Homo sapiens: one gene and its partners. The protein of the gene in region 1 interacts with the protein of each later gene in a pairwise test. Each region holds a gene or a part of one and is shown in the gene's direction. Other genes may lie near its edges. The genes, in order: ARL8A, UQCRH, SPG21 and MOCOS.

Region 1 (7,638 bases):
GAAAGAAGGAAACTTGAGGCTCAGGAGTATTCCTGGCCCGACCCAAGGCTTCAGAGATCTGGTTTTGTCCCAGGAGCTGAGTGGATCAAGGAAGACCAAGTGTCAACATGGGGCATCACCCCTCAGCACGTGTAAGGGGCAGAGGACTTCTCTCACAGCAGATCTGAGGGGCAGCAATGAGGAGTAGAAAGTAGAAAAGATGAATATAGGTGGTGGGGCATGGTGGCTCATGTCTGCAATCCAAGCAGTTTGGGAGGCCAAGATGGGCCAATCACTTGAGGTCAGGAGTTCAAGACCACCCTGGCAACATGGTGAAACCCTGTTTCTACTAAAAATACAAAAATTAGCTGGGCAAGGTGGCAGGCACTTGTAGTCCTAGCTACTCAGGAGATTGAGGCAGGAGAATCACTTGAACCTGGGAGGCAGAGGTTGCAGTGAGCTGAGATCATACCACTGCTCTCCAGCCTGGCTATCAGAGTGAGACTCTGTCTCACAAAAAAAAAAAAAAAAAAAAAAAAGTGAAAAGATGAATATAGGCAAAGGAGTTGGCATGTTCTTTGAGAAAGTCAGGACTTTCCCAGTAGGACCACAGGGATGTTTGACTGGAGCCATTCAGCCAGCACCCTGACCCTCCTTCACTCATGGTCTGTGTGTTTCTCCTTGCAGAGGGGGGATGATCCAGACGGCAGAGCAGTACCAGTTCCTGCACCACACTTTGGCCCTGTATGCAGGCCAGCTGCCTGAGGAACCCAGCCCCTGACCCCTGCCACCCTCCGGTGGCCCAGGTGCCTACCTCCCTCAAGCCTGGGAAGGTGGGTCTGGGGAAAGTGGGCCGAGTGATCTGGGGGTACCCCTTGGGTTGGTGTGGGGAAGGAGTGCCTCCTTAGTGGTGCTTGCAGTCACAGGAAGCAGCAGCAGTAAGGACAAGGGGCCGGATTCCAGGTCTTCAACACTGGCCACTCCTCTGCTTCCTCTGTTGGCCCCAGATGGACAGTAAGGGGAACCTCCAATGTCTCTCTGAACTTAAAGACAGGAGCTGGCATTTATGACAGACAAAGAAAGAAGCCCAGGTGTCCTGGTGTTCTCTGAGACACTCTTTGTGAGCTTCAGTTTCCTGTTCTATAACATGAACATAAGTGCTTAGCTGCCATGAGGGAAAAGTAATGAGAGAAGTTTCTAGAAGCCACTCCAGCCACTCCTTCCTGGGGCTGACAAAAGGGTGATTCCAAGATCATCCTTCACCCGAGGTCCTGCCCAAGCACAGGCCAGATGCAAGAATGGGGAAAAGTCTGGTCCTGATCTCCAAGTCTCAACATCCTATCAGTGACTCTGCTCCCTGACCACACATCGGAAGGGCTGGATGACCCCAATCAAAAGAAAGAACAAGGACTCTGGTTACCCTTGCCTCCACCCATGTGTCATAAGAGTAGGCTACAGAGGTGACCAGGCCTGGCAGTTGAAATCTCTGGAAGAGGGAACATGTGGGGACTACTCAGAGGCAAAGAGGAGCTGCTCCTGCCTCCATGGTTGCTGGCCACTCCCACCAACTACTCTTAGGGAGGCTAAGCAGTCTCTGTTTTGCTTCCATGGCTCAAATAATACCCTGGGTATGCAGGACCCACTATACCTTGCATTTGCTGAGTACACCTAGAGAGCTTGGCTGTTTCCAAAAACAATCAGGGTCATAACCATCCATGCAGACATGGAGGCTCGGCTGAACCAGGACTCCTCACTGTCTACCTGAGAGAATGAGCACCCCTCATCCATCTCAGCATCAACACAATTTCCAGGGGACCTCAGGTCTACCTCAGGACTGAACGCCACACCTCAGGATTCCTCCTCCTTGAATCTGAGACTGGCTGCCCATTCTGAGATGGGGATGAAGGTAAGATGCCGCATCACCAGGCACGCCGCCCCTGACAGCTGCCTTGATACCAGCTCTCTGTGGAAACCCCCGAGGAGTTGGATCTGGAGAACAGCTGGGCCTCCTCACTCAGGACTTCTCTCCTGAAGAACACGCAGTGCTAAAACTGAGGATGATTTCCCTAATGCTTCTGCTTGGCCTTATGGAGGAGCTGCTCCTTCCTTACAGCCTTGGGGATGGACTTGCCCACACCTCCACCTCCCCTGAGCCCTGTGAGAGGCACGACTGTCTATGCCAATGAGGCTCGGTGGGGGGCTCTCAAGTGCCTGATCCTGCCCTGGGCTCAGAGCCAGCCCAGAGGGAAGCAACTGCACAGCCCCACAGGCCCTCCCTGGCACTGTCCCCCCAACCCCATCTCAGAGCTCAGAGGGTACAAGCTCCAGAACAGTAACCAAGTGGGAAAATAAAGACTTCTTGGATGACTGACTCATTCCTTCTTTCCATCTTCTTCTTGGCCCTCTGGGGCCTCTTTGTAGCAAGAGAGAAAGACTGCAGACCAGGGACAGGCAGGCTGCAAATCTTTGCCCTTGGGATATGCACTTTTCTAGCACTTCCAAGGACATAAAGTAAGGTGAAACCAAAGTCAATTTAGGAAGTGAGACAGGGTGGACCCTCATAGCCTACCCAGGCAGCTGTAACAATTCACACTACCGTAAACCATGTGGCTTCTAAACAACAGAAATGTATTGCTGGCCTGGCGTGGTGGCTCATGCCTGTAATCCCAGCACTTTGGGAGGCCGAGGCAGGCGGATCACGAGGTCAGGAGATCCAGCTAACACAGTGAAACGCTGTCTCTACTAAAAATACAAAAAATTAGCCGGACGTGGTAGCACACACCTGTAGTCAGCTATTCGGGAGGCTGAGGCAGAAGAATTGTTTGAACCCTGGAGGTGGAGGGTGCAGTGAGCTATCATGCCACTGCACTCCAGCCTGGATGACAGAGCAAGACTCCATCTCAAAAAAAAAAGAAAAAAGAAAAAAAGAAATGTGTTGCTCACAGTTCTGGAAGCTGGGAAGTCTAGGATCAAGACCCTTGCAGACTCAGTGTCTGGCTATTAGGCAGAGCCTTCTTTCTGTCCTTGCATGGTGAAAAGGTTGTGGGCTGGTATTCTTCCCCCTAATCCCACCGGCCCCCTTTATAAGGCTCTACCCTCATGACTTAATCACCTCCTAATACCATCACTTTAGGGATTAGGACTTCAACCTATGAATTTGGGGGGACACAAACATTCAGTCCATAGCCTTTATCTTAGGAGCTAGAGGAGGACTTATAAAGGGCAGAGGTTAGAAAGATGGTGCTTAATAAACCAGAATATTGGCCAGGCTCATGCCTGTAATCCCAGCACTTTGGGAGGCTGAGGCAGGCAGATGGCTTGAGCTCAGGGCTTCGAGACCAGCCTGGACAACATGGCAAAACCCCGTCTCTACCAAATATACAAAAATTAGGCTGGCATGGTGGCGCATGCCTGTAGTCCCAGCTACTCGGGAGGCTGAGGTAGAAGAATCACCTGAGCCCGAGGAGGTGGAGGCTGCAGTGAGTCGAGATCCCACCGCTGCACTCCAGCCTGGGCCACACAGTGAGACCCCATCAAAAAAAAAAAAAAAAACAATATTATGCTAGCCGAAACCTTGTGATTCTTCTACTTTGGTAACTGTTTGACTATTTGGGGTCATCTAACTCCAGTTGATTGGACAGATATGGTTGATATTGATAGTTTACCCACTTTTGACTAAAACAATAGACTACATATGACTACATTTGAAAACCAAACCCCAACGGGCAGCCAGCATAGGCTGGGGACTGCCCGAAGCCTGAGCCTACCCGGGACTGCCAGCTGAGGTTGTCAGCCTGCCTGAGCAGGTCCTATGGGTGGGTCTTGCAAGGAGAGGGGCAGGAGTAAGGCATCTTTGCAGGCACTCCAGACCCACTTCAAGAGGAGAACTATCACTTCTCCTCCTGAAGAATACTCTGCTTTTCACCAAAACAGGGCAACATTTTCCTTTGTCACAGACGTTCCTCACTGAAAACCCCCTGCCAGGACTGTATCTGTTTGGGTATCTTGGGGATGCTGGTAAAAATCCGGAGCAAGTTCAAGCGTCCGTTTCACTTGGGGCCAGAGGCTTCCTAACAAGTGGTCGGGGTAAATTGTGGTGAACAAAACAAGATGGAGTATTAAAAGACCCGAATACGGTTGTCCCTCTGCACTGGGTGCATTTTGAGAGGATGGGACTGTACCCAGGAATGCTCAGAGGCAAGGGTTCAGGGACAAAAAAGCCTCCATCTGCCTCCCTGTCGTAGAGATCTCATCTCCGTGTCCTGGGAAGTGGGTGACCCACTCTCCTTCAACCTGAAAAGGCTCCTGCTTAACCGGAACCTCACCCACCTCGAGCCCACCACCCTTTAAGAAAGGGGGTGCCAGTCAGGGCGCGGCAGTCGGGGACAGGGTCTAAAATAAATTAGACCCCATTTCCCAAGCGCCTCTCGACGCCAGCTGCCGGTCAACCCCCGCCGCTGAAGCCTGCGGATTCCCTGCTCACCCCACCTGCGGATTCCCTGCTCACCCCACCTGCGGGTGCGGCCCCTGGCCCCCCGGCTCCAGCGAGGGAGGAGCGCGCGCTCGGGTGCGAGCAGGACACGGCCCGGCCGCGAGGGAGGGCGGCGGCGGCGGCGGAGGAGGAGGGCGCGGAAGCCACACCCATCGGCGAGCCGATTCCGGGGCAGCGAGTCGTCGGCAGCCGCGCTCGAGCCTCCGCCCGCACCGAGCCGCGGGACCCGGGCCGTACCGGGGAGGGGCCGCTCCGGGCCGCAGCGCGAGGGCAGCGAGGGGCGGCGGGGACCTGGCACCGGGCGGGGCCGGCGGCAGCGACCATGATCGCTTTGTTCAACAAGCTGCTGGACTGGTTCAAGGCCCTATTCTGGAAGGAGGAGATGGAGCTCACGCTGGTCGGGCTTCAGTACTCGGGCAAGACCACCTTCGTCAACGTGATCGCGGTACGAGGGCGTCGGGCGCGGGGTCCCCGGGCGCGGGCCGCGGGTCGGGCCTGTCCCCGCCCGCGCCGCGCCCTGCTGAGCCGGGGTCGCCGCCTGGCATAGCCGGGCACGGCCGGGCGCCGGGCGGGGGAGGAGCCGGCCCCGAGCGCTTGGGGCCTAGTACGGCCCGTGCCGTGGGGGACCGGGGCGGCGCGCGACCCGCTCTCTCACCCGGGCCGGTACTGCACGGCTGGGGGCAGGGGAAGGGGGACGAACAGACAGGGCCGGTGCCACGGGGCAGGCGGCACCGAGGGGCTCTCGAAGCAGGAGGGACCCGCTGCCGGCTGAGACGGGCCCCCTCTGGCCCCCGCGCAAGGGGGCATGACGGGGCGAAAGTGCACGGGCCTTCCTGTCCCGCGGGTAGAGGGTCACGGGACGGGGCGGCCGAGAGGCTTGAGGAGGGGGTTTGGGCAAGCCCAGCCCCACCCAGAGGGCTTAACCCCTCCTTGCCGGAAGAGGAAGCCCCGGCCCTATTGAGGGGGAGGGGAGGTATCCCCCGGGGTAGAGGAGTCAGCTGAGGCCCTTGGCTCAAGCCCAGACTCCTCCCCAACTTCTCCCCGACCCGCAGTGTCTAGCCGGGGGTCCAGGGAGGATCGCATGGTAACGGGAGTTTGGAGACTCCGTCTGGCTCAGAAGTTTGCAGGAGCAGGTGCTCCCGACAAGAGAGGATGAGGTGTAGGGGCACGGCCCACTGGGGCCTTGGGAGAGTGGCTCTAAGGGCTTTGGGTCGTCAACACTGAAGTGGGTGATTGTAAGTCTTTCAGCGCCAGGGGAGTGGTGGGGAAGGAGTTAAAATCTCTCTCAAAAAAGGGGAAGATGAGCTCCATGGGTGTGAGCTGAGGCTGCCGTAATGGCTGCGGCCTGCCTGTCAGAGCCAGGCTAGACAGGGCTTGTGGGTCGAGGAAGCATGGGACAGGGGCTGGGGTTGTCCAGGGACCTGGCCCCAGTCCCAAAGCTGAGGTTTCCCACAACTGTGAGTTGGCCAGATAGTAACCAAAGATACTGATGAGATAGGTCAGCAGAGGAATGTATCCAGCCGGCCTAGGTACCTCTACCTGTCCGTGTTGTTGCCCCACCTTGCAGAAGATGGGCCTCCTCGACAGTTCTCAGCGTCCTAGAAGGCAGGGGACGTCACTTCATTGGACCTGAGGCATGAAGGCAGATGGAAAGCTCGAGGGGCGGGCATCCTGTGGTTACACAATTGAACACTGGCTTCCTTTCCCAAACATGCTCTGCAAATGACCTCTGCCCTTTCTCGACCCAGTGTCTCCTGTCTCCTGACCTGACAGGGCAGGATCTTCAGGCCAATGCTGCGGTTTTGGCACAGTAATTTTCGGAGCTAACACCCCTGGGCTCTGTCTGCCTAGGCTCTGCCCTTGGGGTCAGAGACCCTCTGGTTAAACTTGGCATTGACTTAGGCTCTTGGATTCCCAGAGCAGGCACATAACACCTGGACTCTGACCTGACTCTGCAGGCCTAGGTGGCTTGGGTTCTAGGCGTTTAGGTCTGAGAAATGCAGCTGGGCCTAGGTATCTCCTCGTTCCCCAGGGTGTTACTATAGCTGTGCTCTGGGACAGGGATCCACAGGTACCCGGGTGGGTTCGGTTTCTGGGTCTGCAGTTGAGCCTTTGACAGGAGGGCCCCCTCTAGACCAGCATCATATCCAGAGAGTTGGAGACTATAGCAGGCCAGAAACAGAACCCAAGAGTCCCAAATTCCCCTGCCAGGGTCAAGAGTTCCTGTGATATACAGGAAAAGCACCCCATCTCCAGCCCACAAGGTCCCCTTTTTAATCTTAAATTTGCCACTTCCGCTGGCACATTCTAAAAGAGCAGGCAAGCTAAATTCCCTTCTTTAGAGAGGCTTCCCAAGGAAAACCACCCCATGTGGGCTGCAGTTGGAATTCCAGTGTCCCGGTCACTCCAGTGTTTTCAGATCCTCTGGGGCTACCACACTGGCATTGCTGCCCACCCCGTGTATAATCACAGTTGAGTGTCTTCCAGAAAGAAACGAAGAGTTGGGACCCCTGGGCTCTGTTCCCATGCCTACCACTGAATTTCTGAATTACCTGTGCCTGTTCATTTGGCCTCTGTTTGTCTCAGATCTTTCGCCATTGGGTTTTTTCTACTCACCCTATGAGGTCTGGCTGTAAATAGAAATTGAGTTTAGTGTGTCTAGCTGCTCAGCAGGTTAATGTGAGCTGGAAAGAAATTATATACACTGCTTCTAAGAACCTGAAACATCAGCCGGGCATGGTGGCTCACGCCTGTAATCCCAGCAATTGGGAGGCCAAAGTGGGGGTTTCACCTGAGGCTAGGAGTTCGAGACCAGCCTGGCCAACATGGTGAAACCCCATCTCTACTAAAAATACAAAAATTAGCCAGGCATGGTGGTGGCCACCTGTAATCCCAGCTACTTGGGAGGCTGAGGCAAGAGAATTGCTTGAACCCAGGAGGCGGAGGCTGCAGTGAGTTAAGATCGTGCCGCCACTGCACTCCAGCCTGGGCAACAAGAGCGAAACTCCGTCTCAAAAAAAAAAAAGGAACCTAAAACATCCTTTGAGTTCTGAAAAAGTTGTGATGCTAGAAAAGTGGGAGATGTTTTGTCCTAGGAAACAACAGGGTCATTTTCAAATATTTAAAAGTGTCAAAGACTGTCCTATGGAATAACTAGTCTTGGAGTG
Region 2 (7,022 bases), about 160 Mb from region 1:
AAAGAGCAGCATTAAGAAACCTTGTTAATGAAAAACTAGAATTTACATCCTAAATAGCATCTTCATATTTAGAAGAAACCTTTGCCAATTGTGAGAATAAATAGCCTGGATTCCAAATTGAACCTTTCCTACCCCTCACTCCCAGCTTGTATGAGCTTTGGTGGCTTCACTGAATGGCATGGTAGAGGATGAAACATGTATTAGGACTTTTTTTGGAGACGGGGTCTCACTCTTGTCACCCAGACTGGGGTGCAGTGGTACAGTCATAGCTCACTGCAGCCTCAAACCCCTGGGCTCAAGGGATCCTCCCACCTCGGCCTTCTGAGTAGCCATGACCACAGACGTGCGCCACCATGCCCGGCTAATTTATTTATTTTTGAGACGGAGTCTCTCTGTCGCCCAGGCTGGAGTGCAGGGGTAGGATCTTGGCTCCTGCAACCTCTGCCTCCTGGTTTCAGGTGATTCTCCTGCCTCAGCCTCCTGAGTAGCTGGGATTTCAGGCGCGTGCCACCATGCCCAGGTAATTTTTGTATTTTTAGTAGAGACGGGGTTTCACCATGGTGGCCGGGCTGATTGAGAACTCCTGACCTCAGGTGATCTGGCCACCTCAGCCTCCCAAAGTGCTGGGATTACAGGTGTGAACCACTATGCCCAGCCTGTTTTTAATTTTTTTAGAGATGGGGTCTTGTCATGTTGCCCAGGCTGGTCTCAAGCAGTCCTCTCACCTGGCCCTGTATTGGAGTTCTGAAAACATGATTCCTGAGCTAGTTCTTTTTATTTCCCTAGATACCTTTTCTTTCCTTGCCCCCAAATGTGGGTATCTGCATGCACAGGCAGGCAAACACCTTATTTCTGAGGTCAGATTTTACTATATCCCAAATTTAGGCCTAAACTGTTGCTCCCATGGGCAGTTTTTTACACTACTATCCTTGAAGAAGAAGGAAACTAAGTTTGAGGTTGTGCATTTGAATCAGAAGTGAATAGGTGGGGTCTGTTCTGTATTTCCAAGCTCATGAGTGGAGTTGTGCACTTTTATTTGATATACTTAGTCTACTAGGGGTTCTGGGAGTTCAGCAAGCCAAAAAGCAGTGACTAACCATCCTTAGTTAAGCTCTGACCAAACAAGGGTTTTTAGGTTTAGCAGTTTTCATATTCCTAATTCAAGTTCACAGTCTAGAAAAAAATGGGTTTTCCTCCTAACTTGGTTTGGGATGTAAGGACTAAATTTTGCTATTTGTAGCAATACTGGGACAAATACTTTAGATTATGTAGGCCCCATGTGAACATCTGGCAGCTTGAATCTGTATCAGAAAATGTCTAATTACTGTTTATTATCTCTAAACTGGGATTACCTCCTTAAGGGACTGTTGTGATTAATTAAATCATAAGAGATATGAAGGTGCTTTATAAACTGGAGAGTATTAAGCACACTTAGGTTCTTGTTAATGAAAGTGAGATGGTGTCTCTGTCTTGAAATATACCTGGGATTCGTTTTAACCAAGTATGGTAAGGTGACAGACCTGGAGACAACCGCCTTTGAAAGAAGAGTTTATTATTACTTAAATTTCCTGAAAGAGAGGGATATGCCACACAAAAAAATGCAGAGCTATATGGGGAAGTGTCTGAGCTCGTCAGGAGGCAGAAGGTATGAGGGGAAGGAAGCATGGCTCAGCACCTTGGTTTCTATGGGAAGGAATTGGTGGGCAGCGTAGGTACACTTGCTCAAATTTAGGATTGGATAGTTTGAATAATTTCGTTGGGCTCTAGCTTATAGGGCTGGTTCCTAGTTGTCCTATATTTGTCCCTGGGGTGATTTAGAGAAGGGGAAACAGGAGCTTAGTGTACAAAACTTAGATAAAGGAGGCAGGGCCAGGCTGAGTGGCTAATGCCTATAATCCCACCACTTTGGGAGGCCAAGGTAGGAGGATTGATTGAGCCCAGGAGTTTGAGAGCAGCCTGGGCAACATAATGAGACCTTGTCTCTACCACAAAGAAAATTTTTAAATTAGCCAGGCATGTGGCGTGTGCTTATAGTCCTAGCTACTCAGAAGGCTGAGGCAGGAGGATCACTTGAGCCCAGGAGTTTGTGGCTGCAGTGAGCTATGACAGAGCAAGACTCTGTCTCTTAAACAAAAGATAAAGGAGGCAGTTTGCTACAAGCACTTTGGATAGTTACGTTGCATATGAAAGGTATGCTCGCAGGCAAGTTTGCTGTCTAAAAATTAGCCCTGGAAGAGCAGGATTAGCTCCAGGATTAGCAAGGCCTCTAAAATGTAAAAACATCATAAAACACAGAAAACAAAATAACATCGTTAATAGTGTCAGTGTCTATCGTCAGTAATTACATCAGTATGATCAGGAATAAATATGTCATAAAATTGCTGCTGACATTAATTTTGTTTTCCTTTTGTAGGAGGAAGAGGAAGAGGAGGAATTAGTGGTAAGAACTGTCTCAGGTTTGGAAACATCTCAGTAAAAGCAGGGTTTGAGCTTCATGAAATTCTAAGGGCATTTTAAGGAGTTTTTACTTGATACCTTGTAGATAATGGGGGTGGAATAAGCTTTGATACTTCCTGTGCAGTGGAGAGTTTAGGGTGTGAGCCTTGGAAGCTGAGTCTGTTCTGGGTTTGGGGCTTCTTCAGTTGTGGTACCAGGGAGCAGATGGCATCTTGAGGGCCTGGCACTCAATCATCTGCTATTTGTGGTTTAATAAAGAACTTTGGGCTAGGCATGGTGGCTCGTGCCTGTAATCTCAGCACTTTGGGAGGCCAAGGCAGGCGGATTACCAGCCTGAACAACGTAGAGAAACCCCATCTCTACTAAAAATACAAAATTAGCCGGGCGTGGTGGCACATGCCTGTAATCCCAGCTACTCGAGAGGCTGAGGCAGGAGAATTGCTCGAACCCGAGAGGCGGAGGTTGTGGTGAGCTGAGATTGCGCCATTGCGCTCCAGCCTGGGCAACAAGAGCAAAACTCCGTCTTAAAAAAAAAAAAAAAAAGAACTCTGAAGGAACCTTTGTTAGATAGTCCTTCTCTATGTTAGCATTGCCTTTCTAGTTGGGCAGCTGGGGTGCATAGGCCTGGTTCTCAGACAAGGGGATTTGAAGTTTCAGACGTGTCATATTCCAAAATGCTGTGTTAACAAGTAAGGCCTCCTATAGATCTACTTCAAGTTTGGCCAGGTTTCCTTTACCACCTTGTTTTTCAGATAGGACTGAGGCTTTCAGTGCATACTGGCAACCTTGGAAGGCAGGAATGTGAAACTTTTCCCTACTACTTAGCATCAGAATTGAATGGGAGACCGCATTCTGCCATTTCTGGCGGCAGTGTGGCTCTGCCAGCTGGCCTTCTGCACGGTAATTCAGAGGCAGCACCTTGGTTTGGTGGTTGTGTTAATCAAAGCATATGTGTTTGGTGGGTCTCTGCTAAAAATGCCCATTTTGTTTTTTTTCTGTTTCTACATCAGGATCCCCTAACAACAGTGAGAGAGCAATGCGAGCAGTTGGAGAAATGTGTAAAGGCCCGGGAGCGGCTAGAGCTCTGTGATGAGCGTGTATCCTCTCGATCACATACAGAAGAGGATTGCACGGAGGAGCTCTTTGACTTCTTGCATGCGAGGGACCATTGCGTAAGTCAGTGGGAAGTCAGGAAGGGGAAAGGTTGCAATGGTCAGGGAAGACTTGGTGCCAACAATCTTTCCATGCTAGGGAAAGGCCCATCAGTTACTCTGGGCCCAATATATGTGACATATGGTGCGCTGAGCATTTTATGTAAATAACCTATTCTATTTTATTGAGAGGGTCTCACTATGTTGTCCAGGCTGAAGTACAGCGGCATGATCGTAGCTCAGTGCCAACCTTGAACTCCTGGGCCTAAGTGATCCTGCCTTGGCCTCCCAAGTAGCTGGGACTACAAGTGCATGCCACCATGAGAGGCTAATTTTTTATTTTTTAATTTTTTCTAGTGACGGGGCCTTGTTATGTTGCCCAGGCTGGTCTCAAACTCCTGGGCTCAAGCAATCCTTCCTTCCATCTCGGCCCTCTGAAGTGCTGGGATTATAGGCATGAGCCATTGTGCCTGGCCTATAAATAATCTTGCCTAGGGCGCGGTGGCTCATGCCTGTAATCCCAGCACTTTGGGAGGCCGAGGCGGGTGGATCATGAGGTCAGGAGATCGAGACCATCCTGGCTAACAAGGTGAAACCCCGTCTCTACTAAAAATACAAAAAATTAGCTGGGCGCGGTGGCGGGCGCCTGTAGTCCCAGCTACTCGGGAGGCTGAGGCAGGAGAATGGCGTGAACCCGGGGAAGCGGAGCTTGCAGTGAGCCGAGATTGCGCCACTGCAGTCCGCAGTCTGGCCTGGGCGACAGAGCGAGACTCCATCTCAAAAAAAAAAAAAAATAATAATAATAATAATCTTGCCTAATCCTTACTACTTCCACTGGAGATAGGTATCATTATCCCATTTCACAGATAGAAACTGAGGCTCAGAGAAAAAAACATAAACATCCCAACATGCACCACTAAACAGTGGGGAAGCTGGATTTTGTACTTTTCAATAACAGACTGTTCTTTAAAAATAATTTGTATTGGCCGGGCGCGGTGGCTCACGCCTGTAATCCCAGCACTTTGGGAGGCGGAGGCGGAGGCGGAGGCGGAGGCGGGCGGATCACGAGGTCAGGAGATTGAGACCATCTTGGCTAACACAGCGAAACCCGTCCCTACTAAAGTACAAAAAATTAGCCGGGCGTGGTGGCGGGCGCCTGTAGCCCCCAGCTACTCGGGAGCCTGAGGCAGGAGAATGGCGTCAACCCAGGAGGCGGAGCTTGCAGTGAGCCAAGGTTGCGCCAAAAAAAAAATAATTTGTATCCTCAAATGTGTCTAATATATAGTAGTTGGTCCAAAAGGTTGCTTTTTTTTTTGAGACGGAGTCTTGGTCTGTCGCCCAGGCTGGAGTGCAGTGGCGCGATCTCGGCTCACTGCAAGCTCCACCTCCCGGCTTCACGCCATTCTCTTGCCTCTGCCTCCCGAGTAGCTGGGACCGCAGGCGCCCGCCACCATTCCCGGCTAATGGTTTTTTTGTTTTTTTTTGTTTGTTTGTTTTTGTTTTTTTGTATTTTTAGTAGAGACGGGGTTTCACTGTGTTAGCCAAGATGGTCTCAGTCTCCTGACCCCTGTGATCCACCTGCCTCAGCCTTCCAAAGTTCTGGGATTACAGGTGTGAACCACTGCACCCAGCCTTTTTTTTTTTTTTTGAGATAAGGTCTTGCTTGCTCTGTCACCCAGGCTGGAGTGCAGTGGCACAATTATGGCACACTACAGCCTCTACCTCCTGGTTCAAACAATCCTTCTGCCTTAGCCTCTGAGTAGCCAGGACTATAGGCACATGCCACCATGCCTTGGTAATTTTTTTTTTTTTTAATTTGAGACTGAGTTGCACTCTGTCACCCAGGCTGGAGTGCAGTGGCGCAATCTTGGCTCACTGCAACCTCCACCTCCTGGGTTCAAGCGATTTTCCTGCTTCAGCCTCCCAAGTAACTGGGATTAAAGGTGCACGCCACCACACCCAGCTAATTTTTTGTTTGTTTGTATTTTTAGTAGAGACGGGGTTTCACCATGTTGGCCAGGCTGGTCTTGAACTCCTGACCTCCAGTGATCCACCTGCCTCAGCCTTCCAAAGTGCTGAGATTACAGGCGTGAGCCACCGCACCTGGCCCATACCTGGGTAATTTTTGTATTTTTTGTAGAGATGGGATTTTGCCGTGTTGCCCAGGCTGGTCTAGAACTCCTGGGTTCACACATGCCACTCATCTCAGCTTCCCAGAGTGTTGGGATTACAGGTGTGAGATACCATGCCTGGCCTCAAGGGGTTGTTTTTTAAAAGTAAACTCAGGCAGGGCATAGTGGCTGACGCTTATGATCCTAGCACTTTTGGAAGACCAAGGCAGGAGGACCCCTTGACCCCAGGAGTTTAAGACCAGCCTGGGCAAGATAGGGGAACCCTGTCTCTACTTTTAAAAAATCAAAATTAAAAAAATAAAAATAAACTTCTGCTTGACTCTTACATATAACACAGTAAGGTATTTTACATAAATTATACATAAGCAAAGTTTGATGTGGTTGCTTCTATTAAAACTAATTGGATGGCCAGTAAACGTATGAAAAGATGTTCAACATCATTAGCCACCAGGGATACTACCATGAGATAACACTTTATACCAACTGCCCACTAGGATGGCTATAATAAAGAAGATAACGAGTGTTGACGACAATGTGGAAAAGTTGGAAACCTCATACGCTGTCAGTAAAAGTGTAAATTGGTACAGCCACTGTGGAAAACATCTGGCAGTTCCTCAAAAGGCTAAATATACAGTTAATATATGACACAGCAATTACACTCGAAGATATATACCCAAGAGAAATGAAAACATATGTTCACATAAAAACTTGTACACAAATGTTCATAGAAGCATTATTTATACTACCCAAAAAGTGGAAACAACATAAGTGTCCATCAGCTAGGCTGGGCACTGTGGCTCATGCTTGTAATCGCAGAACTTTGCGAGGTCAAGGCAGGCAGATCACCTGAGCCCAGGAATTTGAGACCAGCCTGGGCAACATGGTAAAACCCTGTCTTTACAAAAAATATATATATAAAAGCCGGGCGCGGTGGCTCACGCCTGTAATCCCAGCCCTTTGGGAGGCGGAGGCGGGTGGATCATGAGGTCAGGAGATCGAGACCAGCCTGGCCAATATGGTGAAACCCCATCTCTACTAAAAATACAAAAAAATTAGCCGGGCGTGGTGGCGGGCGCCTGTAGTCCCAGCTACTTGGGAGGCTGAGGCTGGAGAATGGCGTGAACCCGGGAGGCGGAGCTTGCAGTGAGCTGAGATTGTGCCACTGCACTCCAGCCTGGGCGACAGAGCGAGACTTCATCTCAAAAAAATATAGACAGATAGATAGATAGATAGATAGATAGATAGATAGATAGATAGATATAGATAACCAGGCAAGCTGGCT
Region 3 (7,413 bases), on another chromosome or scaffold:
CGAGTAGCTGGGACCACAAGCGCCCGCCACTACACCCGGCTAATTTTTGGTATTTTTAGGAGAGACAGGGTGTCACCGTGTTAGCCAGGATGGTCTCAATCTCCTGACCTCGTGATCCACCCACCTCGGCCTCCCAAAGTGCTGGGATTACAGGCATGAGCCATCGTGCCTGGCCTGTTTTTTTTTTTTTTTTAAAGTTTGATTGGAAGCAAGAAGGAGGAGGAATATTATCAGAGAAGGGCAGCTTTGAGGAAAGACTGCTGTAAAGATGTAAAGATCCTTATTTTTTTTTTTGAGATGGAGTTTTGCTCTTTTTGCCCAGGCTGGAGTGCAATGGTGCGATCTCGGCTCACTGCAATGTCTGCCTCCCGGGTTCAAGCGATTCTCCTGCCTCAGCCCCCTGAGTAGCTGGGATTACAGGCACATGCCACCACCCTGGCTAATTTTGTATTTTTAGTAGAGACAGCGTTTCTCAATGTTGGTCAGGCTGGTCTTGAACTCCCAACTTCAGGTGATCCACCTGCCTCAACCTCCCAAAGTGCTGGGATTACAGGCGTGAGCCACCGCGCCCAGCTGTAAAGATTCTTTGACAAATCTCTTATAAATTTATAAAATCTAAAATCTTAGAATTGGAAAGAACTTACAGATAATTTAGTTTAGCCTTGGCCTCATTTTACAGAGAAGGAAACCAGACCTAGCAGAGGATATGTTTTGCTCAAAGATAAAACTCAGGTTTCTGAACTCCTAGATGACAACTAATACATTATTAATTAAAAATAACTATATATAACTTCTGTTTGATAATGCCTTTAGGTAGTAACCTCTAAAATAGCCACATCAGCATTTTTCTAAGCCAGTTCCTGAATACCCACTTTGTGTCTGATTCCTCCAATCCAGTGCAGTATACATTTTACATAGACTTGGTCTGGCAATGAGGAAAGAGCATTCATTTTCAATCTTGGGTCTCAGCATAATTTGGTATATAACACTGCAATCGACTGTACCCTGTAAAGCTTTAAGGGGATGGTATTCCAAGAATTAGTATTAGTCTGAAAAAGCAAGTGTTTTGTTTCTCTTTCACTTTTTTACACATCCGTGGTTCCTGGGGGTAAAATAAATGTTTTCACTCTAATGGGTGCACTGGAGGGAGGCATTCTAAATGGAAGGAAGGCATATACAAAAGCCTAGAGGCTTCCTGAGACATCAGGAGGTGTTTGGGGCCCTTCAAGCAGTTGGTATGACTAGAGCACTTTGGCCCCACAGAGATCTGAGTCAAGAGCCAGACCTGCTCTACTCTGCATACCTTGAACTTTAGCTTGAAGGCAGTGGGGAGCTATTGAAGGATTTATAGCAGAGGAATTACAGAAATATAGTTGCTTTTAATTATTATTAATATTATTATTATTTGAGACAGAGTCTCACTCTGTCACCCAGTCTGGAGTGCAGTGGCATGATCTGAGCTTACTGCAACTGCCGCCTCCCAGGTGGGTTCAAGTGATTATCCTGCCTCAGCCTCCCCAGTAGCTGGGATTACAGGTGTGCACCACCACACCCGGCTAATTTTTGTATTTTTAGTAGAGATGGGGGTTTTGCCATGTTGGCCAGGCTGGTCTCGAACTCCTGACCTCAAGTGATCCACCCGCCTTGGCTTCCCTCAGTGCTGGGATTACAGGTATGAGCCACTATGCCTGGCTGCTTTTAATTATTTTGATCACACAGATAATATATGAATACATTTTAATATAAACTCAACTATTAAATCCAAAGTCAAAGTTCTTCACCACTCCCTCCATCCCCAGTTCCTCCTCCGAGGTAATCACTTAGCTGCTTGGTACATACCTCTCCAAACATTTTAAAAAGTGCATTCACAGCTGGGCGCAGTGGCTCACGCCTGTAATCCCAGCACTTTGGGAGGCCGAGGCGGGAGGATCACGAAGTCAAGAGATCGAGACCATCCTGGCCAACATGGTGAAACCCCGTCTCTACTAAAAATACAAAAATTAGCTGGGTGTGGTGGCAGGCACCTGTAGACCCAGCTACTCGGGAGGCTGAGGCAGGAGAATAGCTTGAATCCGGGAGGCGGAGGTTGCAATGAGCTGAGATGTGCCACTGCAATCCAGCCTGGCAACAGAGCAAGACTCCGTCTCAAAAAAAAAAAAAAGTGCATTCACTTATGTATACACATGCATAGGGATATTTCTGGATCTGGGATTATTTTGTGTGTTTTCAAACAAATATTATCCTGTGAAAAGATAAATTAAGAGGGACAGAGCCCGGGTTTGGGTAATTCTGAGAGCCAGCTGGCCATCTGTTTACTTTGCTTGGTGTTCACAGCATATTTTGTGAACATTCCAGTTTTTCTGTGAGATTCTCACAGATGAATTGGTGCTGTGGGAACCATCTGGCAGACCCCAGCCACAACAGCTGCAAATCCTTACAGCCATGTCTACCAGGTCAGCCTGCACTGGGACCTGCCTGAATCAAAAGTTTGCTGCCTGAATTTGTGCATTACAATTCAGCTGGAATTCACAGATATTAAATGTTCTTTGTTGGGATTAGGAAAGGGACAATGTGCTTGCCATGTGTTATGGAACAACTGAGGACACAAACATGACCATGGTTTCCCTTCCTGAAAGAAGTAAAACATTTATTATTTTTGGATTGGTCTACATTGTAATAAAAGTTGATATGTAACAAAACATATCTACATAGTGATTTTTTTTTATTGTCAATTGTCAAAGTTTACTACCACACTAACAGAACAATGACTTTTAACATACGGGTATATCCATAGATTAGGTCTCATTAAAGCTGTTACTAAATGGGGTCTAGGGATGGGGTCTAAGGAATACAGCTTTAGGAACAAATGTGGAAATGGGGATAGATTTATTTATTCCACTCATTAATTCATTCAATATAGTTTTTTGTTGGGAGCAGACAAGGTCTCTCGCTTTGTCACCTAGGATGTGGTGCAGTGGATTCGACATCTGGGCTTAACAGATTCTCCCATCTCAGCCTCCTGAGTAGCGGGGATTACAGGCATGCGCCACCACGCCCGGCTAATTTTTGTATTTTTTTGTACAGACAGGGTCTCCCAGGTTGCCCAGGCTAGTCTCGAACTCCTGGGCTCAATCAAGCGATCCGTCCACCTTGGCCTCCCAAAGTGCTGGGATTACAATCAATATACATTTAGTACCTATTATTTATGGGCTAATCATGTGCTAATGGACTGGTGGAATCACTCTATTCCCTTTGCTCTAGATTGAAGCTTCGAGACCACCTGGGAAAATAGACAACTAATGTAATGAATATCCATAACCAGTTTCAGAGACAACCAGTAGTTTGCAAGTTATTCCACCCATTAAACGATTCCAAATGTTGGAGAAAAGGCCCCCAACTTAAAATACTCCACGGAAACGTGCTCTATACATCTATGTGGTGCTTACAATAAAAGATGAATTCCTGCGACTGAGTTGCAACCCCGAAAGAAATGATTTAGAGAAAAAAAGAAAGAAAGAAAAAGGTAAGTATGTCACCGTGCTTTTGGAAAATGCTTTTGGGATTTGTCCAAGTTCTAGAGTGGAACCCAAGGCTCCTGGGCCAGGGGACAGAAGTGATAACTAAGTAGGATGCAATTTAGTTGGAATCTTCCCTGACCTTAATCCCATAAACAGTTGCCTAGGTAAAGGCAAAGTCTACAGGCCCTAAAACAGGGTACAAGCTTTCCCTAAAACATATTAGAGAGAGGCACTTTCAACAGGACCTTGTTGCAGGATCCCTAAAAAAAAAATTCAAAACAAGGAGATTTACATGTTATTCACCTTATCATAATTTCAGAAATATTTTACTAATAAAAAAGGAGTCGTGAAGTCTGGAACACCTTAAGACGTGACGTCTGCAACACCTTAAGAACAATGATTACAAATGTATTAATATTCTCTCTGATTTTAAGGGAAAAGTGATGAAGGAACAGGAAGATGGGTGGGCGTATGTTCCCAGAAATCCCCAGAACGTCAAAAAGGAAGCGGAGGCTTTGAGTGGAGGACTACGGAGAGCGTCTACGGTTGTGCCAAAGGAAAAAAAATGTTCCTAAGAAAAGAGTATACAAAGTTGTGTTCATCAAAGTCTGGAACCCAAAGGTGTCCCTCCAAAGCTGTACACGACAGAGAAAACGCGAACTGAAAGAAGAAGCAGGTCCCAAGGGGCCAGGCGCCTCCTCCACCTCCTCCTCCTCCTAGGTACGTAGGGCAGAACTAAGGCTGACCCAGACGTAACTCAGCCCTCTCCTCACGCCAGCCGCAGCCAAGCATCCCACGGAGCCTCCCCCCGCGCCCGTCGCCGTGGCGACCGCCGGGGCCACGCAGCACCGCCCCTTCCTCGCGACGTGGCCCCGCCCTCTGAGAACCCGGAAGCGGGAGTCTCGCGCCAGCTGAGCGGCGGTCGGGCGGGGGGAGCGCGGCGGCCCAAGCTCGCTCGGCCACGCGCCCCGCCCCCTCAGAGGCCGGCCTCCCGCACGCACCGCGCAGCCTGCTGTGCCCGTGGGTCCCGAGTGCTCCGCCGCCCGCCCCGACCCGGGCCCAGCCGCCTCCACGGCCCGCGCTCGTACTGGAGCGAAGAGCGGCCTCCTGAAGGAGGGGAAGGGACGTGGGGGCGGCCACGGCAGGTGAGGGTGGGCGAAGCCCTGGGAAGCGGCTGGGTGTGCGGTATGCGGGGTTGTAGGTGTGTGTGTGTGGCGCGTGGCTGCCTTGGTTGGTGTGACTTTGTGAGTGTGTTCTGAGTGGGCCGGTCCATGTGACCACGCACGTGATCACGTGCCCTTGTGAGTGTGTGTCTGGGGCCGAATCTGGGCTGTGGGGTGGTCGGTGTGCTTGTGACCCTGCCTTTGTGTGGCTGTCACCGGTGGGACTGGCGGGGAGCTGTGTGTGAGTCTCCAGCGGGAGGTGGGGGCGGCACAGGGCTTAACCGGGGCATCCTCCTGTAAACCCATCCTGGGGCTACACGACTGCAGCCCAGGAACATTTCTTTCTTTCTTTCTTTCTTTTTTTTTTTCTCAGCAAACTTTTAAGAACTGTGAGCAGAGGCCAGTAATTTTGGAGACAGGACCTCGGCCTGAAAGTGATAGATGTCTTTGTTGTTACTGAGTGTGGGCCAGGTGTAAGGTTTGTAAACGGGGGATGAGGAACAGAGCGGGACCGGAGTGTCTCATTTTTCCTCTTCTCGTTTTCCTGGGGAGTTATAAGTTAGACATTTATGCTGCTTCCTTTGTCTCCACCTACACTGGTTCAGCTCCTTTTGGCACAAAGATTCAACAAATTAAGGAGTAACTTTTTTTTTTTTTTTTTTTTTGAGACGGAGTCTCGCTCCGTCGCCCAGGCTGGAGTGCAGTGGCGCCATCCCAGCTCACTGCAAGCTCTGTCTGCTGGGTTTACGCCATTCTCCTGCCTCAGCCTCCCGAGTAGCTGGCACTACAGGCTCCCGCCACCACGCCCGGCTAATTTTTTGTATTTTTAGTAGAGACGGGGTTTCACCGTGTTAGCCAGGATGGCCTCGATCTCCTGACCTCGTGATCCGCCCGCCTCGGCCTCCCAAAGGGCTGAGATTACAGGCGTGAGCCATCGCGGCTGGCCACTGAGGAGTAACTTAATAGCTGTGTCCAAATTCCAAAAGCTTTTTTCCCAAGAGCATGAGAAGAGATGTCACAGATGTCAGGTAGGCACCTTTTCCTCCTGTAAGGTTTAGAGATAATGCAATGAAGAAAAGAGGGATAGATCTCCCCTGAAGAGATCTAAGAAAAGGATAGCTGTGTACTTCTGTGGTGAGGGATGGAGACGTGCATTAAAAAGCCAGTTGCATCTCCCAGAGACTCTCAGCTTCTAATATTTTGTTATGGCTAGTATTTATAAGCACAGATTTTCCACAATGCACATCAACTATAGATTGAAATAAAGTAGCAGAAACCTCTGACTAATTATGCTGGTTATGTGACTTAAACATTGATAAAGGTGATTTTGTTGACTTTAAAGTGGCAGGTTCTGTTGAAGCCATGAGGGATAGGGGCATAGTCACAACTGGCAGGTTTTTTTGTTTGTTTGTTTGTTTGTTTTTTGAGACAGAGTCTCACTCTGTCGCCCAGGCTGGAGTGCAGTGGTGTGATCTCAGCTCACTGCAACCTCCGCCACCCAGGTTCAAGCAATTCTCCTGCCTCAGCCTCCTAAGTAGCTGGGATTACAGGAGCCCATCACCGCGCCCAGCTAATTTGTTTTTGTTGTTGTTGCTGTTTTGTTTGTTTTTTTGAGATGGAGTTTCGCTCTCGTTGCCCAGGCTGGAGTGCAATGGCGTGATCTCGGCTCACCGCAACCTCTGCCTCCCGGGTTCAAGTGATTCTTCTGCCTCAGCTTCCTGCGTAGCTGGGATTACAGGCATGTGCCACCACGCCTAGCTAATTTTGTATTTTTAGTAGAGACGGGGCTGCACCATGTTGGCCAGGCTGGTCTCGAACTCCTGACCTCAGGTGATCCACCTGCCTCAGCCTCCCAAAGTGCTGGGATTATAGGCGTGAGCCACTGCACCCAGCCACAACTGGCAGTTTTTATTGTCCAGCAGCACAAGGGCCAGAGAAGACAGGGAGTCCACAGCACACCCTGAAGAGGGCTTTCCTTAGGCAAGATTAAGGCTAATATTGTGGCTCTTTTCCCACCAGCATGAACAGGTGCTTTTGTTTTTGTGAAGAACAAAATCATGAGAGATAAAATCAGTTTTGAGCTCATGGTCCACATTCTTTCTTATTCAGTACTGACCAGTTTGGTCACAATCTCAGTTAACCTTTGCCATATACAGAATATTCCTCTTATGATTTGGAAAAGTATACCCCTTTGGTGGATGAAAGAGAGCTAGGAGAACAAACTTTCCTATTCATACCACTCACAGCTGTTTTCCCTTTGCAGCAGTGATCTTTTTTTCACTTAGACGTCAGTTGGTCAGATGCAACATTTGGTATCCATTTTACCTTTCATGTACTGCCAAACTAGCACAAGTGTTAAAATTACTTGTCTCTACAAAAATTTAGTCACAGCGGAGTGGAATCTCTCCATCTTGTAAGATTACTTTTAACACGTTGGCATCCTGAGGTGGTTGTGAATTATTCTGAAGACTGTTGGTAAGGAACATCTTTCTATTTACTGCTATGGGAAAGAAGAGGATGACCGCGTGAATATGTGTGCCTGTGTATGTGTGTATTTGTATGGTGGTTTGGTTTGTGCATTGCAACTGATTTCAAAGCTATGAATGATTTATCCCATTTGGTGACTCTAGAAGCACACTTTCTGGCTTTAGTTAGCTAAGGTGTTTTATAAATCTATTGAGTAGATGTTATTTGCTAAACATGTTTTTATTTTCCCTCCTTTAGAATAGATT
Region 4 (6,881 bases), on another chromosome or scaffold:
AATGCTGCCTTCCTTCCCCCACCTCCTCCTCCAGGACCCTCTGGGCAGGTCTCCCAGCAGCCCCAGGTCTGGGAGGCTCTTTACCCCAAGCCTGGACCTTTGTGGGAAGGACTTTTCTCTAGCGCTCTGCAGCCTGGAGGGGTGACCTGACTATGAACCTATCTCCTTCCTCATCCCAGGAGCCTCTCAGGCACAGAGACTGCCTTGCTGACTGTTGTCTTCTCAGTGCCTACCATGTTTGCAGCAGGGCACAGCTGCCCAGTGAACACTGAATAAATGCCCCTGCCAAAAGCACTAGTAATTTTCAAGTGAATCTTCTAGTGTTTCAAGCCTGGACAGTTGCAAGAGGTTATAGCTGGTTTTCCTGCTCCCAATTCTCACAGGCTCATCCAGTCTGGTCATGGCCATTGGATAGTTCTACCTAAATCACTCATAGGGCACTTTCTAGTTCCAAAGCCTGCCTTTCCTTTGTTTGTCTACCACCAACTCCAAGCCTAACTCTGACAAGCACTCATTCATCTTCTGCTGAGTGAGTGAATGAATGAATGAATGAATGAATACATGAATGAATGCTTTGTATATAGTAGAGATTCTTGCAAGTGGAGCCCATTGCTAGGAGACACTGGGGGTGGGAGTTGTTAACCTGGGAGCAAGGGGATTTCGGGAAGCATCATCAGGAGGTAAGGAATCAGGCTCAGTGAGGTGCACCAGGGACTAAGATTCACACGGGGAGAGATTTAAAGTACAAAATTGAGGGCATCTCACCTGTCTGCCCAACTGGCTCATAGACACATAATTTTTCAAGTTCTTAGGTGAGAAAGGGTTGCAAGTGGGAGTTGGAAGAGCTGTTTTCCTACCTAGCTGTAAACTTTAGGTGCAGAAGCTGGCCTCTGGGGAACTCAGCATGGACCAGCTCAGGTTGCTTGGAAGCTCCAAGGCCAGCAGCTGGACCAGGTGAGAAGTGGCCATGGCAGCCTATAGCACAGGGCCCAGGAGATCACTCCTCCTCCCAGGTCAGACATTCCTTGGTGGGGATAGAGGTTCTGCTTAAGGCAGGGTGAGAGCGAGCAATCTGACTTCTGATAGTCTCTTTCTGGTAGGAGCGGCCCAGGGAATCTTGGTGAAATGCACCTAAGGGTGCCAATTAGAGGCCAAGACTCCCAGTGTTTCTCACATTCCCTACTCCTCCTCCCATCTTGACTGGCTCACTGCTATGGCCCACTTCAAAGGCTTCCTCCTTTGGGCTACCTTCCCTGGATATCTTGCTAGGAAGTAGCCGCTTCCTCTCTTTCAATTCTATACCTGCATCCTGAACCAGTGCTGCCTGGGCACTCAGCCCACATTGCCTTGTGGCTAGTGTAGGTTCATTTTCCTACTCAGCTGTAGGTGCTATCTTCACATCCACCCTCCCAAGCACACAGTGCCCTAGATGGGCATAGCCAACTGCTTTAAAGTATTTCTGGATTAATGGTAGATCCGTGATTTTTAATAACCTTCAGGAGTTCTGCACTGACTTGGCCTATTCCAATCCATCACTAGGCGAGCTTGTCTGAAGCAGCACCCCTGTGGACTGGTGGTTTGTTAGTTGGCTGTAGAACTCCTTGAGGAGAGGTTCTCCTTACATTTCCAGGGAAATGACCTAGGCCCTCCCTCCTCAGAGTGCCATTCGTGAATGGGGCATCAGCATCACCTGGGCTACTTAGAAACACAGAACCTCAAAGAGTCAGAACCTGCCTTTGAATAGGCTCTCTAGGGGATTCATGCAAATGAATGCCTGGAAACCCTGGCCTAGGGGAGACTCTCACCAGGAAGCAGGGCTTTAAAAGGATGGGTGAGGAGTGACACACTGAACAGCTGCTGGGAGGACCAACTCACCCCTCTCAACTTAGATGGGGAAACTGAGGCCCTGGGAACCACGGTGGCTCACACCAGAGAGTTAGCAAAACACACTTCCCTGCCTGGGCTCTGGAGACTGACTTCCCAGGTGCTAGCTTGTCTTCTAGCTGTGTGCCCGTGTGCAAGTTATTCTGCCTCTCTCTGCCTCAGCTTCCCCATCTGTAAGAGCCACCTCCTAGATCTGCATATTTAATCATTGAACGACCAGGACAGGTAAGAGTGTACACAGTGCAGTGCCTGGCACACAGTGAGGCCCTGTAACTAGCTCTTGTTATTAGTGCTGCCCAAAGCCACATTCACAGAAGACAGTCCAGTATCCAAAGTGCCTGCTTGAAGCATGGCCAGAAGGCAAGCAGATGGTGGGGTGGGCAGTGATGTCAATGAGCAAATGCCTGCATCCATCCATCAGTACATTAACTCCTCCTCGAACAACTATGGGTGTTTGTCGAGTAAGGTCCTGGACATTCAGCAGTGAGGGAGAGAGCGGGGGTGGTCAGTGGGCAGAGGCCACTGAGGAATATGGGTACCTGGGCATGGACCCTAGCGCTGCAGTCCACAGACCCCTGGGTCTCCGGCCAGGGGGAAATGAGCTCTTAGTGGCGGGTCTTTCTCTGGCCTGGTATCAGGGGCCTGGGCGGGAGAGCCAGGGCTGCGTGCTGCCTTCCCATGGCTCTCACGCTGGGCACCGGTATGCATCATGCATCAGCAAGGATCCTAGGGCATCTGCGGCCCATACCCTGGGTGGCAGCTGGCCTGGATGCAGCACAGGTTGAGCTCTTGGGGCATAGGCCTCCTTCCCACCTTGTCCCCCCGCTGTATGCCTCCAGGGCCTGTGGGCCGCCTGCACCTGGTCGCCGGCCTTGGGTTCTCCACCGAGCCTGCCTCTGAGTTATCTCCCCTGAGCCCCAGCACCTGCCGCCCATCCGCACTGTCCACCATCCCTGACATTCGATTCCCCCACGAGGCACCTCGCCTGTGCGTGCAGTACCTGTTTTGCTTCCACCCCATTCCCAGCAGCGGGTTCCGCACCTGGGATCGCACGTGAGATTTCCCCCCACCCCCCAACCGCATGCCTGGGCTCTACTACCTGCACCTGCCGCCCCACCCCTGCATCCCGCTCCGCACTTCCCGCGCATAGGTTTGGCCAGGCCCTCCCTATTGAGGCACCTGTTCTCCAAGACAGAGCCGCTGTGTCCCAGGTGCTCTGGGTGCAGGCGCGAGTGGGGATTGAAGGAGGCGCTCTTATTCCACTCTGTCCGGGACAGGGGCGGCTTTGTCCTAGGGCACTCTTGCTTTAATAGAGAGGGCCCGGCCACACCCACGTGCGGGAAGTGCGGGGCGGGATGCAGGGTTGGGGAGGCAAGGGCAGGAAGTAGGGCCCAGGACGCGGTTGGGAGGGCGGGGAAGCTCAGCTCACTTGGATCCCAGCTGCAGGGCCCGCTCCGGGGGAAGCCCCCGAGCTTCCCGGTTCCGAAAGTGTGCAGCCACTGAGAATTTATTAGCCTCGTGGATCCCTAATCTTTCCCCTTTTCTACCCTTTGGTCAGCCGCATTCTAACAAACGGCAAGCACACGCCCCGCTGGGTAGCAGCAACCCGAGAACGCCCCCACCCCCGCCCCCGCCAGACGCCGGTTCCCGCTTGAGAGGGTGAGGGTCCCGAGACCCCTGCGAGGAGGAGGGTCGCGGGGTTCCAGGATGCCGATGCCAAGCAGGAAAGATCACCTCGTTGCTTCTTCCACCGGCCTCTCCGCGAGACATAGCTAAACTTGAACTTGGCATTCCAAGGGTCTGGAAACATCTTCGTGGGACCCATCGAGAGGTTGTTTAAAGACTGGCACCCGCTCCCGCGCCCAGGTGGGGAAAGGGCTGGCCAGAAGTGAAAGTCCGGTCGGGGCGCCACACCTAGGCTGCGGATTCCGAGAGACTGGGAGGCTGGAGGCCTGGGAGGCGTGGCGGGGGCGGAGTCGCCGGGGGCCGGCTTCGCGCACTTCCCGGGCCCGGCCGGCCTGGATGGACTAGCCGGGGCCATGGCCGGCGCGGCGGCGGAGTCAGGGCGGGAGCTGTGGACCTTCGCGGGTTCCCGGGACCCGAGCGCACCGCGGCTAGCCTACGGCTACGGCCCGGGCAGCCTGCGCGAGCTGCGGGCGCGCGAGTTCAGCCGCCTGGCAGGTGAGGCGGGCGGGCAGGCTTGGGGGACACGAGGTTTCTGGAACCGACGTGGACGGATCTTTTGCTCCTAGTGAGAGCGGCGCTACCTCATTCGGGCGCATTTTGAATCGAAACTCCAGGAGGGACGTGTCCACGCGTCCTCCTAGTAGACACGGCTCCCTGAGGTCCCACCTGCAGCCCCAAGGCTTCTTGCTACTCTTACTCTTCCGACTTTCCGGTGGGCAGGACCAACCTAGCCGTCTTCCCCTTTTCCCGCCCTCCGCGAGCGGGGCTTAGGATGGTTCTTGCCCTCTCTTGCGGGAGACCCCTCACTGTAAAGGGCCTGCTGGGGCCGGGGTTGCAAAAGACAGCATGTCCAGCGGCCGTGACCCTTCGGATGTCCTCCCGAGGTAGGAGCGGTGCGTGGACCGCCAGCGCCCGGGCTGGGACAGCACCTCTGACGGCGCGCCAGGTTGGGACCGGGAGGCCAAGGCCTCTTGGCCGGGGCCTCCCGAGGCTGCGCTCTGCAGACTCCTCTGGGATAGCCTGTATTCAGCTTTGATTTTCGAAACCTCATTTTCCTTACTCTTACAGCGTCAGAACAATCCCTCTGAGCTCCAGTTCTCTGGGGGACTAGAAGAATTAGCAAACAGTGCAATTTCACCTTTAAGAACAGGGCGAGCCTGTGAATTAGACAACACCAAGATCACATCGTGCCTTTCCTCAGAGCGGAACAGGCTGATGAAATTGCAAATCAAGCTCCATCTGGCCTTGGCCGACCCAGCCCTCTGCTGCCAGGGCCCAAGTTCGTGACTCATCCCTCTGCCAGGGACTTTGGGTGCAGGGCTTCATCAAGCCCCAGGGCCGCGTGCCGGATGGTCAAGGAGGGTGTGCAGGTGAAGTGGGCACGTCTTGGCACAGGGCACCGGGGTTTGAGTGTATCTGCTCTGTCGCGATGAACAACTGGTGACTGCTCCCCTTCTGGGGGCAGAACAGCAACCATGACTTAGGTTTCACTACTCGGGTAGCTGATTTCAGCGCTTCGGGTCACTTCCTGGTGTTGTGGAGGGTAACTGTGTTTTCCCTTTGGGGGCTGTGAGAACTGTGGCCTCCTCCTGTGTGTCTCCTCTGGCTTCCTAAGTAGGGAGAGTCAGGAGGGAGACGGGGGTGCCTTCTGCCAACCTCTCTATTCACTCCTCATCCTTCCCTCTCGCAGGGTCACCTGCTGGAGACAGCTCCTCACCCTTCTTTCGTATTCTCTCTCTCTCTCTCTCTCTCAACTATTAATTATGGAAATTTCCTACCACTCAGAAATAGAGGGGTACTATGAATGCCTACAGGTGCTGGGGAGGGAGGCTCTCCATTCTTTGAAGCAACTCTTCAAGGCTACCTGAGTAATTATATCAGCACCGCACCTCCTTAATCCCCTAAATCTCCTCCAGCTGTGATCTCTCACGCCCACTATTGGCCAACCTCTCCCCTCAATGCTACCCTGGGAAAGTAGAGCTATGTTCTGGTCCCCTCCTGGTTTCACTCTTGTCCCTCAGAGAACAGTACTTTTCCCCTCAAATGCAAAATTGGGATGTGTCAGCCAGGCTGGCCCTCAGAACTCGTTACCACTTACTGTATGTCTGGTAGTGTTGTGGGCATCTTTTATTTAATGCAAGTTCCTTGTATTTCCTCTACATTACGGTTAAAGCAGACATTTGTGCACTAATCTGACGCCCCTCCCACTGCTGGGAGTCTTGGAACATGTCCACTTGTTTTTCTCCTAGAAACAAGACAGAGAGAGGGCGGGAAAAAACAAACCAAAATAACATCACCTCTTCCTCGTTCCTCCTCTCCCCTCATGAAGTTTTTCTGCCAATTTGAGAATTACTCTGGTTAAGTGGTGGCTCAGAATAATTAAATGCTTAAGATTTAAGTGCTGAAATGTGTTACCTAAAGATTTGGATGGGAACTTCCTTGCCTTTGTGAAGGGAGAGTATTGAATATACGGATGTGTGTCAAGGGTCTCTGGAAGCCTTCGTGCTGAATCATGACCACTCACCATGCTGGAAAGAGAACTGGAGGGGGATGACCTAGAGCTGACCCTGGAATTCTCTTTCCTGAAGAAGGTCTGATGCCATTTAACTTTGGGGTAATTCACCTGTTTCTAATAACAGCTACACCTGTGTCCCGAGCATTGGACTGGATGCTGCCATATAGCAGCTCATTTAACCTTTGTCCCATCTGCAGATGAAAGAACAGGGGCCCAGAATGGCTACTGGTGGAGCCAGGATTCAAGTCTGGGTTGATTGACTTGGATTTTGTACTGTTAACCCCTATGCTGCCTGACTTTCTCCTAACATCACATCTATGGGTGATTTAACACAGCTTTCCCACCCTTTTGTTTTTCCTGCAAAATTAACCATTGGACCAAAAGCCAAAGCATCTTCTTCTCCAATAGCTACTTGGCCCTCCAGAAGACTGTGGCACAGTGTGAGATGCTCCCCAGCAGCTTCCAGGTCTCACCTGTGGCCTTGATGCCTGGGTGAACAAAAGCCTTTCTTTTGGTTTGGTACCTTTGTATTTCTGAATCTTTAGTAAAAGCGAACATTGTTTTAAAAGTATCTTTTTGGACTAGCTCATACATTTGATATGGTTTGGCTCTGTGTCCCCACCTAAATCTCGTGTTGAATTGTAATTCCCAGTGTTGGGGGAGGGACCTGGTAGGAGGTGATTGGATCAAGGGGGTGGATTTCCCCCTTGCAGTTCTCGTGAGGGTGCGTTCTCACAAGATCCGGTTGTTTAAAGTGTGTAGCACAAACTGGGTATGGTGGCTCAAGCCTGTAATC

The links.
Region 2: the proteins of ARL8A (region 1) and UQCRH interact in binary tests that used the Homo sapiens proteins (3 or more experiments, as listed by UniProt).
Region 3: the proteins of ARL8A (region 1) and SPG21 interact in binary tests that used the Homo sapiens proteins (3 or more experiments, as listed by UniProt).
Region 4: the proteins of ARL8A (region 1) and MOCOS interact in binary tests that used the Homo sapiens proteins (3 or more experiments, as listed by UniProt).

What each region holds. Positions count from the first base shown.
Region 1 is NC_000001.11:202,141,728-202,149,365, reverse strand, and holds the start of ARL8A (ADP-ribosylation factor-like protein 8A), read left to right. Parts: upstream 1-4,628; 5' UTR 4,629-4,793; coding exon 4,794-4,916; intron 4,917-7,638. Other genes in the region: PTPN7 (tyrosine-protein phosphatase non-receptor type 7), read left to right, coding at 1-131, 667-760. UniProt on the Homo sapiens protein: Plays a role in lysosome motility. In neurons, mediates the anterograde axonal long-range transport of presynaptic lysosome-related vesicles required for presynaptic biogenesis and synaptic function. May play a role in chromosome segregation.
Region 2 is NC_000001.11:46,306,688-46,313,709, forward strand, and holds part of UQCRH (cytochrome b-c1 complex subunit 6, mitochondrial isoform 1 precursor), read left to right. Parts: intron 1-2,413; coding exon 2,414-2,440; intron 2,441-3,209; exon of another isoform or gene 3,210-3,294; coding exon of another isoform or gene 3,295-3,357; intron 3,358-3,467; coding exon 3,468-3,629; intron 3,630-7,022. UniProt on the Homo sapiens protein: Component of the ubiquinol-cytochrome c oxidoreductase, a multisubunit transmembrane complex that is part of the mitochondrial electron transport chain which drives oxidative phosphorylation.
Region 3 is NC_000015.10:64,986,915-64,994,327, reverse strand, and holds the start of SPG21 (maspardin), read left to right. Parts: upstream 1-4,413; 5' UTR 4,414-4,663; intron 4,664-4,857; exon of another isoform or gene 4,858-4,922; intron 4,923-7,413. UniProt on the Homo sapiens protein: May play a role as a negative regulatory factor in CD4-dependent T-cell activation.
Region 4 is NC_000018.10:36,183,617-36,190,497, forward strand, and holds the start of MOCOS (molybdenum cofactor sulfurase), read left to right. Parts: upstream 1-3,880; 5' UTR 3,881-3,923; coding exon 3,924-4,065; intron 4,066-6,881. UniProt on the Homo sapiens protein: Sulfurates the molybdenum cofactor. Sulfation of molybdenum is essential for xanthine dehydrogenase (XDH) and aldehyde oxidase (ADO) enzymes in which molybdenum cofactor is liganded by 1 oxygen and 1 sulfur atom in active form.